Linked DNA regions of Homo sapiens. The protein of the gene in region 1 interacts with the protein of each later gene in a pairwise test. Each region holds a gene or a part of one and is shown in the gene's direction. Other genes may lie near its edges. The genes, in order: PPP2R3A and NKD1.

The links.
Region 2: the proteins of PPP2R3A (region 1) and NKD1 interact in binary tests that used the Homo sapiens proteins (3 or more experiments, as listed by UniProt).

What each region holds. Positions count from the first base shown.
Region 1 is NC_000003.12:136,143,693-136,148,653, forward strand, and holds the end of PPP2R3A (serine/threonine-protein phosphatase 2A regulatory subunit B'' subunit alpha), read left to right. Parts: intron 1-1,350; coding exon 1,351-1,474; 3' UTR 1,475-4,202; downstream 4,203-4,961. UniProt on the Homo sapiens protein: The B regulatory subunit might modulate substrate selectivity and catalytic activity, and might also direct the localization of the catalytic enzyme to a particular subcellular compartment.
Region 2 is NC_000016.10:50,642,306-50,649,599, forward strand, and holds the end of NKD1 (protein naked cuticle homolog 1), read left to right. Parts: 3' UTR 1-6,944; downstream 6,945-7,294. UniProt on the Homo sapiens protein: Cell autonomous antagonist of the canonical Wnt signaling pathway. May activate a second Wnt signaling pathway that controls planar cell polarity.

The sequences.
Region 1 (4,961 bases):
AGGCAGGAGAATCACTTGAACTTGGGAGGCAGAGGTTGCAATGAGCCAAGATGGCCCCACTGTACTCCAGCCTGGGCGACACAGCGAGACTCCATCTCAAAAGAAAAAACACACACAATGTTTTAGGAACTTGAATAGGTGCCACTTACTGTATATACCTACCTCAGCATATTTTCCCTCACTAATTGGCCCCAATTGGTACCTTTTTGATGAAGGGACTGTATGTCCACAAATTCCTGCTTAAATATTGTGGGAGATCCCTGCAAGGGCTAAGCCAGTGATGTCAAATACTATAATAGACATTGCTGATGTACATTTTTCTGATGTACATATCTACATATGAGGCTCAGAGATATAGCCTCAGAATATTTATCAATATTTCAGGCAGCCACATCATTTCCAAGAGAAAATATTTCATCTCTGCCTAAAGCCAACCTTAGGGGTAGCCTGGAGGATACAGAATTCAGGGGATACCAGCAACACCTAAAAGGTTTAGCAGAAGGACATCTTCCCAGGATGAGTATCCAGGTCCAGGTATGCTATAGAGACCTAAAAAGTAGAATGATGGGAAATCCATAAATGCACTTTAGTCAGTTCAACCTACATACTTGAACATCTTTTTGTGTTGCTTGGAAGCCACGGAGGGAAGCTATAAAGCAATCTGAGAGTTGAGAAAGTTTGCCACTCTGGCCGACCAGTGGCTCAAGCCTGTAATCCCAGCACTTTGAGAGGCCAAAGTGGGCAGATCACCTGAGGTCAGGAGTTCCAGACCAGCCTGGCCAACATGGTGAAACCCCATCTCTACTAAAAATACAAAACTTAGCCAGGTGTGGTGGCGCATGCATGTAGTCCCAGCTACTGAGGAGGCTGAGGCAGGAGAATCGCCTGAACCTGGGAGGCAGAGGTTGCAGTGAGCCAAGATCGTGCCACTTCACTCCAGACTGGGTGACAGAGCAAGGCTCCGTCTCAAAAAAAAAAAAGGTTTGCCACTCTGAGTGGAAACCACTTTTAATAAGGTCAAGTAATGCTCATACTTCATGGACCTCAAATTTTTCTTTACCTAGCACCATCTGTAATTCTCTCACTCCCACCAACCACCCTAGGGAAAGCTTGATACGGAACATTTTCAACAAATTCTGACATGGACTTAAGCTTTAAGGAACAGGGAGAAGAATGTGTTTTCTGCTCTAGAGTGTTGCCTCCTTCACGGCAGTTGAGTTGCTCACGGCCTCCATTTAGCAATTCAAGGTACCTTTGTGGGCTGGTCTTGAGGCTCGGATTTGCCATATTGATTTCTACCCAAACTTTAATCAATCAATCAGTTAATTCACTTTTGCTTTGTTATTTCAGCTTTGAAGATTATGAAACAGATGAACCTGCCTCTCCCTCTGAATTTGGAAACAAAAGCAATAAAATATTAAGTGCAAGCCTTCCAGAGAAATGTGGAAAGCTTCAATCAGTGGATGAAGAATAGCTGCCGGTGTCTACAATGAAACGAAGATGTGTATTTTAAATGTTTCTTTCTTGTGAAGAGATGTTCTCGTTTGCATACTGCTTTTTAAAGACTTTGATTTCTCCAAGTGTGTATCATCTGCACTAGGAACTTTGTTTTTAAGCAATAGGTCTGGATACACATTTAACTTAGGAGGCTCCTCCAATTTGCCTCAAACCTCTTACGGAGCTTCTCCTCAGAAGTGGTACCATCGCCTTCCAAAGTCAGCACTCTACACTCTTGAATGTACCAAGGATCTCTTGGCGACAGTACCAAGCACGGTTCTCTACACAGGTGACTGAAGTTGCCTCTGTGTTGGCTGGCATCCCTGAGTCCCCTCCGGGCTCCTATGGAGCCTAGAAGAAACCTTCACTTGCAGAAAACTTGAGTCAGAAAATTCTGGAACTTGAAAAAGTAGTAAGGGCCTCCAGAATTGACTTAGCCCTAGTAATAAAAGCACTGCCAAAACATCTCAGAGACTTCTTTTATGTATACTGGAGTTCAAAGATCTTTAACTTACCTGGCTTAATGTAATTTCACAGTTACCTGCCAAACTACTAGTCACTTTACATCCTCAGGTATTGTAACCACTGGGCCTTCCAACTTTGCTGGCAAGCTCTGGTAACCTCCCTGACTGTGGATCTTATATAAAATCTCAAGATAAAAAAACACTTCTTAAATGAAGTATAGAATTTGACTCATACTTGGAAAAAGCCCTTTTAACTTTTATCTTTTATTCATTGAACTATTGAATGATGTATTTAATATCCAAATTAGTTGATAACTGTTTTCACTTCCTATCAGAAGGCCTGCTTGAAGACATAAAGGAATAATGATACATTAAAATTCTTACTAGATAGATATATTCCTTCCTCCCAGGAGTATTAGACTAGCTAATAGTAAAGGCCTCAACGTTATTCTTTACTTCATGTTGAAAACAATTACTACAGATATTTCATCCACCTCAGTATTTATCAAGGAAATGGAAAATGATACAGCTATAAAAGAAAGCTGTTATTTACTGTAGTTGTAGATGTATTCACTACAGAATCCTACATTTTTCAGCAGGCCACAGTCCAGCCAAATCCTATAATATCCTTGAAAAGAAACTATTAAAAAGGATAGACATTTCTGATGTAAGTAAAACCCCCAAGCAACTTAATATCCATCTGTCAGTCATCAACTTTTCCCCTAGATTTTTTTTTTAACTAGTTCTGAAAGTGTCAAGAATAGCTTCCCTTTCCACCCTACCTAGGTTCCCTCCTTGCTGGCATAAAGGCCAAGCAGTGAAATGAACCTTGGGTTAGAGTTATGGTAGGCAAAAAGAAAAGGAGAATTTAGGAAATAAATATGCTATAAACAAGGTACAGTACAGTGAGAGTTAACAATCCTAGGAATCCTGCCTGTCACAAGCTCCCAGTTCCCTGTCATTTTATCTTCATGATTAGAACTGATCTTCCATTTAACTATTACAGAAAGCAGTAACTATTGCAACTATCTAATAGTTCACACAAAAGAATTAAAAGCTTAAAAATAATTTTTAGGAAACACAATATTCAAAATCTAAACACACTGATAAATTATTAAGATTAAGATTATTTATGTGATAAATGAAATCTCCTACCAATCCATCCAGCCTTTACCAGGGAAGAAAAGCAATTATTTCATTTCAGATAGAAATACAAAAAAAAAAAAAATACTTTTCTTAGAAGCCAGATATGGTTTAAATGTTTTATTATCCATAATGATCTAAACTAATAAGATTCACCAAAAAGTAAAAATTCAATTTTACAATATACATTTTTTTTTTTAACTATTTGGCTTTACCTTTTTACCTTGGTTCTCCTTACTGAAGTCCTCTTGCTTTCACTTTGATCTGGTTTTTGAAGTCTCTTAATTATTGGCTGGGCATGGTGACTCATGCCTGTAATCCCGGCACTTTGGGAGGCCAAGGGAGGTGATCACTTGAGCCCAGGAGTAAAGACCAGCCTGGGCAACATAGTGAGACTCCGTCTCTACAAAAAATAAATTTAGCTGGGCATGGTGGTGCACATCTGTAGTCCTACCAACTTGGGAGGCTGAGGCAGGAGAATCGCTTGAGCCCCAGGCTTCGAGGCTGCAGTGAGCTATGATTACGACACTGCACTCCAGCCTAGGCGACAGAGCAAGACCCCATTCTCTTACAAAGTCTCTATTATAAAAGTACATCCATCAATACCATTCCATTTAAAATGGGCTATTGTAATTTACCCACATTATCACATTTTCAGGAATTATAAGAATGTGTTTTATTGTACTCCTTCCTTGGAGCTGAATGCAAGGAATGTGAATTCTGAGGAATTAAGGTAGAATATATTTGACTTTCTGGTAAAGATCATGGTTAAGTATAATCATTACTGCCAAACTGGAATTTTCAAGTTATTATAATATCCCAGGCCCCTTGATAAAAGCTGAGGGTTATCATGACCTTAATGCTAATTCAATGAGAAATGAGTTTAATAGCATAACATTACCAAGGTAATCAAACTAATAAAATTCCATATATCTTCCCTGCATCTTGTCACTGTGTACCATTCAAAGTGTTTATAAAACTCTAGATTCATCAAATGAGATTTGCTCAGCTTTTTGAAATGTTAAGATGTGTTTGGAGAAGGCTGCATGACTTTGTTTTTCCCTTTTAGCAAAACTAAATAAAGTTGTCAAATATGAATCATGTTCATTAAGGTAATTACTACACACTTGTGCTTTTAATCATATTTGCACCTCATTTTTTTGTCTGCAAGAGTAACACTGTAAACAAGCTTGAATGTCAGAGAATAACTCTTTGAGCCCATGTGAAAACTACAAAGAAAGGTCTTTGTAGTAATGACAATATACTGAGAAATGATTTCTTCAGGGGATAGGGAAGAGGACCAGGGTTTGTGAATGAGGCGGAGTTCACAGGAATCAAGGTAGACTTTAGCCTCATCTATAATGCATTATTTTAAAAGAATGTGTAACGGCATGTTTTGGGGTACCTAAATTTTATTTCAGAGGCAAGGTCTATGTTGCCCAGGCTGAGTTCGAACTCCTGAGCTTAAGTGATCCTCCCACCTCAGCCTCCTAAGTAGCTGAGATTACAGGCACACACCACTGTGCCTAGCTTTTAATTTTTTTAAAAAGAGAAAAGTATAAAATACCATACTTTGAACTTAGTATTTTCTAAAGCATTTCTGTTTTTTATCTATGATATGGTTATGGACAATTTATTTTTCATCTGATTCCCATAAAACTTTTACTCTTCTTCAACAAGGTCACCAATAAATTGTTTTAACTAAGAATACAATGAAATAAAAGGAATTCTTTATCCCTAGGACCATACTACACCTCCTCCCGGAAATGCAGACTTAATAAGGCTAACCAAAAAGATAAAATTGTCAGCTCTAAAACTATTACCTAAGGTAAAAGATCATTTGATCATTTATATTAA
Region 2 (7,294 bases), on another chromosome or scaffold:
TCTGCAGGTCCAGGAAGATGTGGCCCCAAATTCTCTGGACCTGATGTCCTAGATCCTGTGCACTTGGCTTCATGGATAGAGTCTGAGAAGGTTGCAGGATCCAGTAGCTGGACCACAGAATGCAGCCTGGGGGTTTGGCTAAGATGAGCAGACTGGCCCATGGTTGAGACTTTGGACCTGAGCTGAGTCCTGGTTCTACTACTTCCTAGATGTGTGACCTGGGACAAGTGACTCACCTCTGTGCCTTGGTGTTTTTCTCTAACATGGGGCTAATTGGGGTAACTACCTTACTGAGCTGTTATGAGTAAATGATCCAGTGGGCGTGAAGCGTTCAGCGCAGAGCCTGGCACGTAATAGGCCCTCGATAAGTAAAACAGCAACAGTAGCTGCAGTTAGGAGAATGTGACCCCAGAAGGCTCATGGGAAAGGAGGTGCAGTCCTGATGGATGAAGGGTACCTGTCCTCCACCCCGGCTGCAGAGCCCCCAGTGAGACAGCTGCTGTGGCATGCTGCCTCTGCTACACACTCAAAAAACACTTGAGGACATGACTTTTCCCTCTCAAGTTTGATGGGATCACTCTGTTCCTTCCAGACCCGACTTGTGGTGTGAACTTGGACAAGCCCCTGCTGTCTCTGGCCTTCAGTACCATATTTGTATTATGAAACTGCCCTTGGCTTGAAGCTAGACTATGGGGGTGGCAGCTCTAAGTCCTACAAACAGTAGGGGTAGTGGTGGGGATGGGCAGCCTGAAAGCCATGCCAGCAGTGCCTTCCTTGGGGAAAGAGGTGGCCTCTGGAGCAATGCTTCGCTACCCTACATCTGGGTCTGTCCTTGCCCAACTCCTAAGCTGCAGGATCGCTGAGGAGTCCACATTGCCATATCTGCCACTTACAGAGTGCCTACTGTGCACCCAGCCCACATTCACTAGTGTCCTCAAAACAGCCTTGAGAGGAAACCAACGAGGAAACAGAGTTACAGTTCAGTTAAGCAACTTACCTAACTTGTGGCTAATGCATGGTAGGATTAAACATAAGCCTGACATATGCTAGCCACATGACCCTCCCTTTCCAGGAGCCTGCTGGCATTGATACAGGTTGACAAAGACCAGTCCTACTCCGTTGTCTGCCATTACTCCAGCCAAGTCCAGGGACACGTGAGGCAAGGGGAGCTGGGGCTGCTGGTGTGGCCGAGACCTCAGCCTCAGCAAGATGGTGCCCCAAGCTCTCAGGGTGCCCTGTGGTCCCCTTCATTCATAACATTGATCATGTTTGTAACTGTAGTTGATTCTCACTCATCGCAGTAGTTACATCTTATAAAGTCACCTCTGACACTGAGTTAGCGCATACTGAACTACTGATCCTAGGGGAAATACAGGGTTAGGTTCCTGCCAGCTTCTGGTCACAACATTTTCATTACCAATCAGTGCATAACCTTGTTTTATGTGTGCTTCTGTTTAAAGATGCCTAATTTACTATATATTCTTGATTCGTTAACATTGAACTCAGCCAACAGCTCTATAACTCATGACTGAATGAAGCTTATCTAGCACACATATTTTCTCTGCAAGGCATATCAGAGCCTTCTGTGCTTAAGAGCACAAGATGGCACTTCAGCGTCATGCCTGGGGAGCATTTTAAGCAGCCAAATCACCAACACAAAGCACAAACATGCACAAAGCATGATGCTAAACAGACTGTGAGAAGGATGTTTGTGTATAGGATGAGAACTGAACCACGAAAGCAGAGCATCATCTTGTTCGACCTCAGTTGAGAACATGTTGTCGGGCCACTCAGACTTTTCACTGCTCTGCGCATATCACGAATGAAGTGAATGCACCATGAGTATTGATTTTGGGTGATAGACAAATTTTAGTGAATAGGCAATTTCGTAAATACAGAATCCACGGAGGGTGAGGATCCACCGTATGTACTTATCTATGCCTCTAATTATTTGGTTTCCACCAAAGCACTTGTTCACCAGATTATCTTATAATCCCAAAGGCCCAGCAAAGACAGGTGCTTGTTCAATGTCTGTTGAGCGACTGAAGGACAACACATTCCTGGCCTCCCCACCCGCCCCCAGCGGGACCTAGCACATGGCCTGCTGTTGACACTCCATGTGTCTTTGTTGATAGAATTCATAAAGACAGATGGGAAAAGGGGCACCCCTCTTGCGGGTTCCTGATGCTGAGAGTTGTTGGAATGTTGATGCTGCCCCCAGAGAAGGGTGACAGCATGCAGACAGACTGGAAACCCAGAACCTCCTGGGGATATTCAGATGGTGTCACTGGGCTCGGCCTGTGGGCTCTCAGCACATCTAGGTACTGGGGCCCAGGGTGACTCTGAGTGGCTCAAGTCCCCTGGCCAGATCCTCTCCAGATGGGCCCCTGGCCATCTTAGCCAACATCACCTGATTCTGTTTCCTCTGACTCTGTCCTCAAAAGGCAGCATCTGATTGTGATTTGGTCCAGAAATTCCTGGCCAGAATATTTCCAGTGTGGTGCATGTGAACTTCCCGCCTTCCCTTCCTTCCCTCCTCCCTCCTTTCTTCACTGGGGAGAAAGAATTTGGCATTCGAGTATCTCACCCCGTCTTGCTAAGCAGTTTAGTTAGACTGCAGGCCAGTCTCTGTGGTGTGACCACCCCCCAGTGGCAAGGAGCTGCCAAAACTGAGCTTCTGGGCAAGACGTGGGCAGAGCAAAGAGAGACCCACACTTGGCACTTCCTGCCCAGAAAGGACCTGCTCAGGCCTGGCTGGCCTTTACCACCGTCATCTCCAGGCTTTCTGTTCATCCGTACTTTCAAAGATTTAGTGATCAAGTACTATGTGTCAGGAACCATGCTCAGCACTCGATAAAACAGACATCATCTCTACCTACCTTTGTGGAGCTTTAATCTAGTGTGGGGGACGGGGGGACTGCTTCCACCCAGAAACGACATTTTTATCCACTGCGATAACTTCTGGGGAGACATGGGAGGGAATAACAGAGGGGACATGATGGAGATGGGGGACTGCAGAGGGACTCTCCAGGAAGCCACATTTAGGGGGTGACCTCAAGGGTGAGGAAGAATTAGCCAGGTGGAAAGTTAGAGGGAGCAGCTGGTACAAGGGCCTCAAGGGTGGATGGAGGGTGAACGCTTGATGAACTGGTGCAGGCCTGTATGGCCGGGTACAGCTGGCAACGAGGAGGCCCGGTATGGGCAGAATCTGGGGGCCTGAATGGTGGAGAGTCTGCTTGTCACCCCAAGAGACACATCAGGAAGCTAGGTGGTCAGTCGGGAGAGAGAGGATGTGACACTCTAGCCACCACCACGCAGAGAAGGGATTGGAAACAGTAGCCCGGAGAGGAGGCTCTCTTGGTAGGATCCCACGGCAACCGAATGGATGCACGTTGTTTATGACGTTCTTACCCATGAAAGCGCTCAAGGATCCGCTTGCTTGCTTACATGTGGGATCAGCACTACCTTCCGTGCTGCCGAACATCTTCTTAAGCGAGGGAAAGAACAAAAAGAAAAGTTGGCAAGAAAGAAAGGGCAAAGACAGAGAGACTGGGAGAGAAAGAGGCCCCAATTTCCTCTCTCTGGTAGTTGCTGAATTGGCTCTCGTGAAGGCAGAAAGGGAAGGGCTGACTTATGTCCCTCTGCCAGGAGAGGGGAAAGGAGGGAGGCATGATATTGACTTAAACGTGGGGGATTTAAAAGGCCCCTATGTTCCCACTTTGTGCTTTGCTTCTAACAGACAGCCTGGGACCTTTGAAGTCGGTCTGGCCCAGTGGGGAGCGGGCTTCTGTGGAGACAAGATGCTAACGGGGGCGGGGGAAGGGGGCCAGGGGGCGGCCGAAACTCTATTAGGCATGCTCTAGCAAAAAGAAAGGCAAATCCAATGATAATGTACATCTGTTTCAGGGAATTTATAAGCTTTGAACATTTTTTATGGGCAGATAAGTGGGTCCTTTTCTTACCATAACTTAGAACTTCAAAGCTGAGTGTGTGGATAATGCAAATTGCTGAAATATGAGATTTTCCCTACAAAGAGGTTTCCAAAAAAGACGAGGAAGAAAAAGAGGGGGGGGGGAGAGAGAACGAAGGCTAACTGATGCCACAGTCTTTTATGTACATGGCAAAAACGGGACAGAAATTGATTTTTATGAAAGAAGAAATTGATGGGAGACATGGCGTGGGGAGGAGGCGGCCTTGTGGCAGGTGCTGGGAGGCAGGGACTGGGGCCGGGCGGGTCCACCCAGGCTGTGGGTCAGCCCTGCAGGGTTGAGCTGCCTGGCTGTGGCTCAGGCCCTGGGGACACAGTGCCCTCCCTCTAGGAGCCTTAATGGGGAAAACAAGAACACTGTCACTCGTAATGGGCATGAAAGGACACTTCAGAGCCAGCCAAGGCAGTGTCAGCCCAGAACAACACCCTGGAACACCCAAGGGGGCTCCAAGGCAGGATGGGACCCCCTGGTTTGGGAAAATCAGAAAAGGCCTCCTGGAGGAGAGGGGCTCTAGGGGGCAGGTATGATCCTGAAGGGAAGACAGTGGGGTGGGACATTTCAGATGGCAAAACAGCTGGGTCAGGATATCCCCAGGGTCATGCCTCTGCCACCCAGACCCCACCACATTCAGCCCTCTGTGCTTTTCTTGTCTCCCACATCCCCAGCCCCAGTAACTAGCAGGGACACAGTCAACATTCAATATGTGCATGTTGAATGAATGAATGAATGAATGTGAGATCGTGAGAACACACAGCTGGTTGGCAAGCAGCATCAACCAGCTCTTTCTTTTCACTATATTACATATCTACAGTGGTAGAGTCATACTAGAAGACATGATGGGATGGTGGTGTGGTCTCTGTAGTTGACCCCATCATCCTTTCTGTCCATAGGTGATTCGTCTAAGCCAGACATGGCAAAGTCCTCACCTTTGCCAGTGACTGATTCAGGAAAGATCATGTGTGACCTTATTCTGGGCAATGAGATCTGAAGGGAAGTCTGTTGAGGAACTTGTAACATGTCATGGTAGTGGCCATCTTGCTACAGCCTGAGGACCACAGAGCACACACAGAGAGTGCTGGGTCCTTGGGAATGATGTTGAGCAAGCACTTATACATGACCTGGCAGCCACCCAGCATCTGTACTTTAGTTATTTGGTTTTTCTCAGGAGGAGATCCTGAGATGAAGACTCAGGAGCAGGTTGTTGATTTTGAGGTGGTCCTGGGAAAGACAGGGAGGAGAGTGGGGAAGTGAGGCAGAAAAGGAAGGGAAGTTCCACTCCAGGAGCCCACGTGGAACATACCTCAGAGTTATCCCACCTGCACAGGGAGGGAGCTGAGGTATTTACCCACCCATCCTTGTCAGTCATTGGTCAAGGGCTATTTCTGTGCATAGGCATAGGCTTCAGCAGAATTGCAGGTACTGGCAGTCGGAAATTGGACCAGCAAACAGAAATGATTCCTACAGGGGATACAAGCCAGGCACAGGCAGTGTCTGTTACTTGGGGTTCCTGTTGCTTAGAGTTGAAAGCATCATAACCCATCCCAGGTGATCATAGAAGGACCTCAAAGGAAAAGGTGAGGGGTTTGGACATTTCCTGAGAATCCATGGGGGAACCATTCAGGGTTTGGGGCAGGTGTCAACCACAAGAACATTAAACAGGCTCTTTTGGCAGCAAAGTTGGGAGTGGTGTTGAAGTAACTGGGAAAACTCCACAGAGGCTCAGCGTCCACCTCTACCTGACACCCTGCCAGCAACCTGGGTGATTTCCGCAGGTGTCTGAACCCCGATCTCTCAGTGTTATGGCCCCCACCACCAGGAAGGCCTCCTTTTCTCTCTTCTATAGCCACTCACTCCTGGGCCCCACTGTGAACCCAGAAATGCCACACCATGGAAGCCACACACTCTGCTGTCTCCTTCTGTCCTCATTCCTGTCCTTCTCACAGTCAGTCCCTCTTGGCTCTTCCTAGAGTCCCTTTCATTCCCTCATTTCCACTTCCTGCCGCTGTACTGTCACCTGTGGCCTGGATTTGCACTCTTGGTCCAACACCCTCAACTCCAACACCTCTGTCTTTCTGCCCCATCCACTAGACAAAAGCTGACTCTGGAAAACATTAGGCACTCAGAATCAAGGGTTCTGGGGTCAGATGGATAATTGCCATCATCCTCACCAAGTTGCCACTGGACTTTCTTGCCCCTAAATCCACTGGGCATTTCATTGCTACCTTTCTTGACTTCTTGATTGTTTTTGTGATACTGACACATCCCCCCTTTCAGAACACCCTCTGCCCTTGGATTCTGTGCACAGGAAGCTAGTTGCTCCCCTGAATACACTCTTTCTTCCTTGTAATACAGCCTCTGATTTTGAGCCCAAGAATAAAGACTACAGTTCTCAGACTCCTTCGCAAATAAATTTTGTGACTAAACTCTAGTCAACAGTAAGTGTCATGTAGCAGCTCCTGGGAATCTCCTTTAAAAAGAGAGCTTGTTTATACCTATTGTCATCTCTGTTCTTCTGTGCCCCTTCTTCCATTTTGCTGCCTGGAAAGCAGATGTGATGGCTGGAATTCCAGTCACCATTTTGGACCATGAGGACAACACCCTAGAGATGTGGAGTGGCTAAAAGAAGCCTGTGTTCCTGAGAACTTAGAGGACCAGGACCTCTATTCCAGGCTTGGACACCTACATTTAGACTATTATATGAGGAAGCAATCAACTTCTCACTTGTTTCAACCACTTTCACTTGCAGTCAAACCTGAATTGTAAGTGAAATTGCTTTCCTGATAGCAAACCTGTTGGATTTTCTCCAGAATCCCTGGGCCACTTTTAGCAGTCAGATTCGTCTAATCCTCCTTTAAAGATGGTGGCAGTGAAACTGGTACATGGGACCTGACTGGGCTTTGTTTGCAACTTTCTGATAATTTATAATTATTTCAAAATAAAAAAATTTTAAAAATAGTGGCGTTGCTCAGATCTCAGTGCTGGCTGCCTGGCCTTCTCCGTGGACTCACTTCTTGGGATCTCGTCCACTGCCATGACTGTCTCTAGGTTGCTGCCAACGAGTCCCAACTACATGCCTCAAAACAAACTCATCATCTTACCCCAAAACCTGCTCCTAGCTCAGCAGATGGCAAGACAATCCAACAAGTAACCCAGACCAGAAGCTTGGGTGCCATCCTTGACTCCTCTTTCCCTCATCACTCCAGTTACTGAGACCTTTTCCACTCTACCCATCCCCTCCATACCCTAGCAGAGAGTCCTGTCGGCTCTCCCCAGCCTGGGGACGGTTCCTCCACTGGCCATGCTGT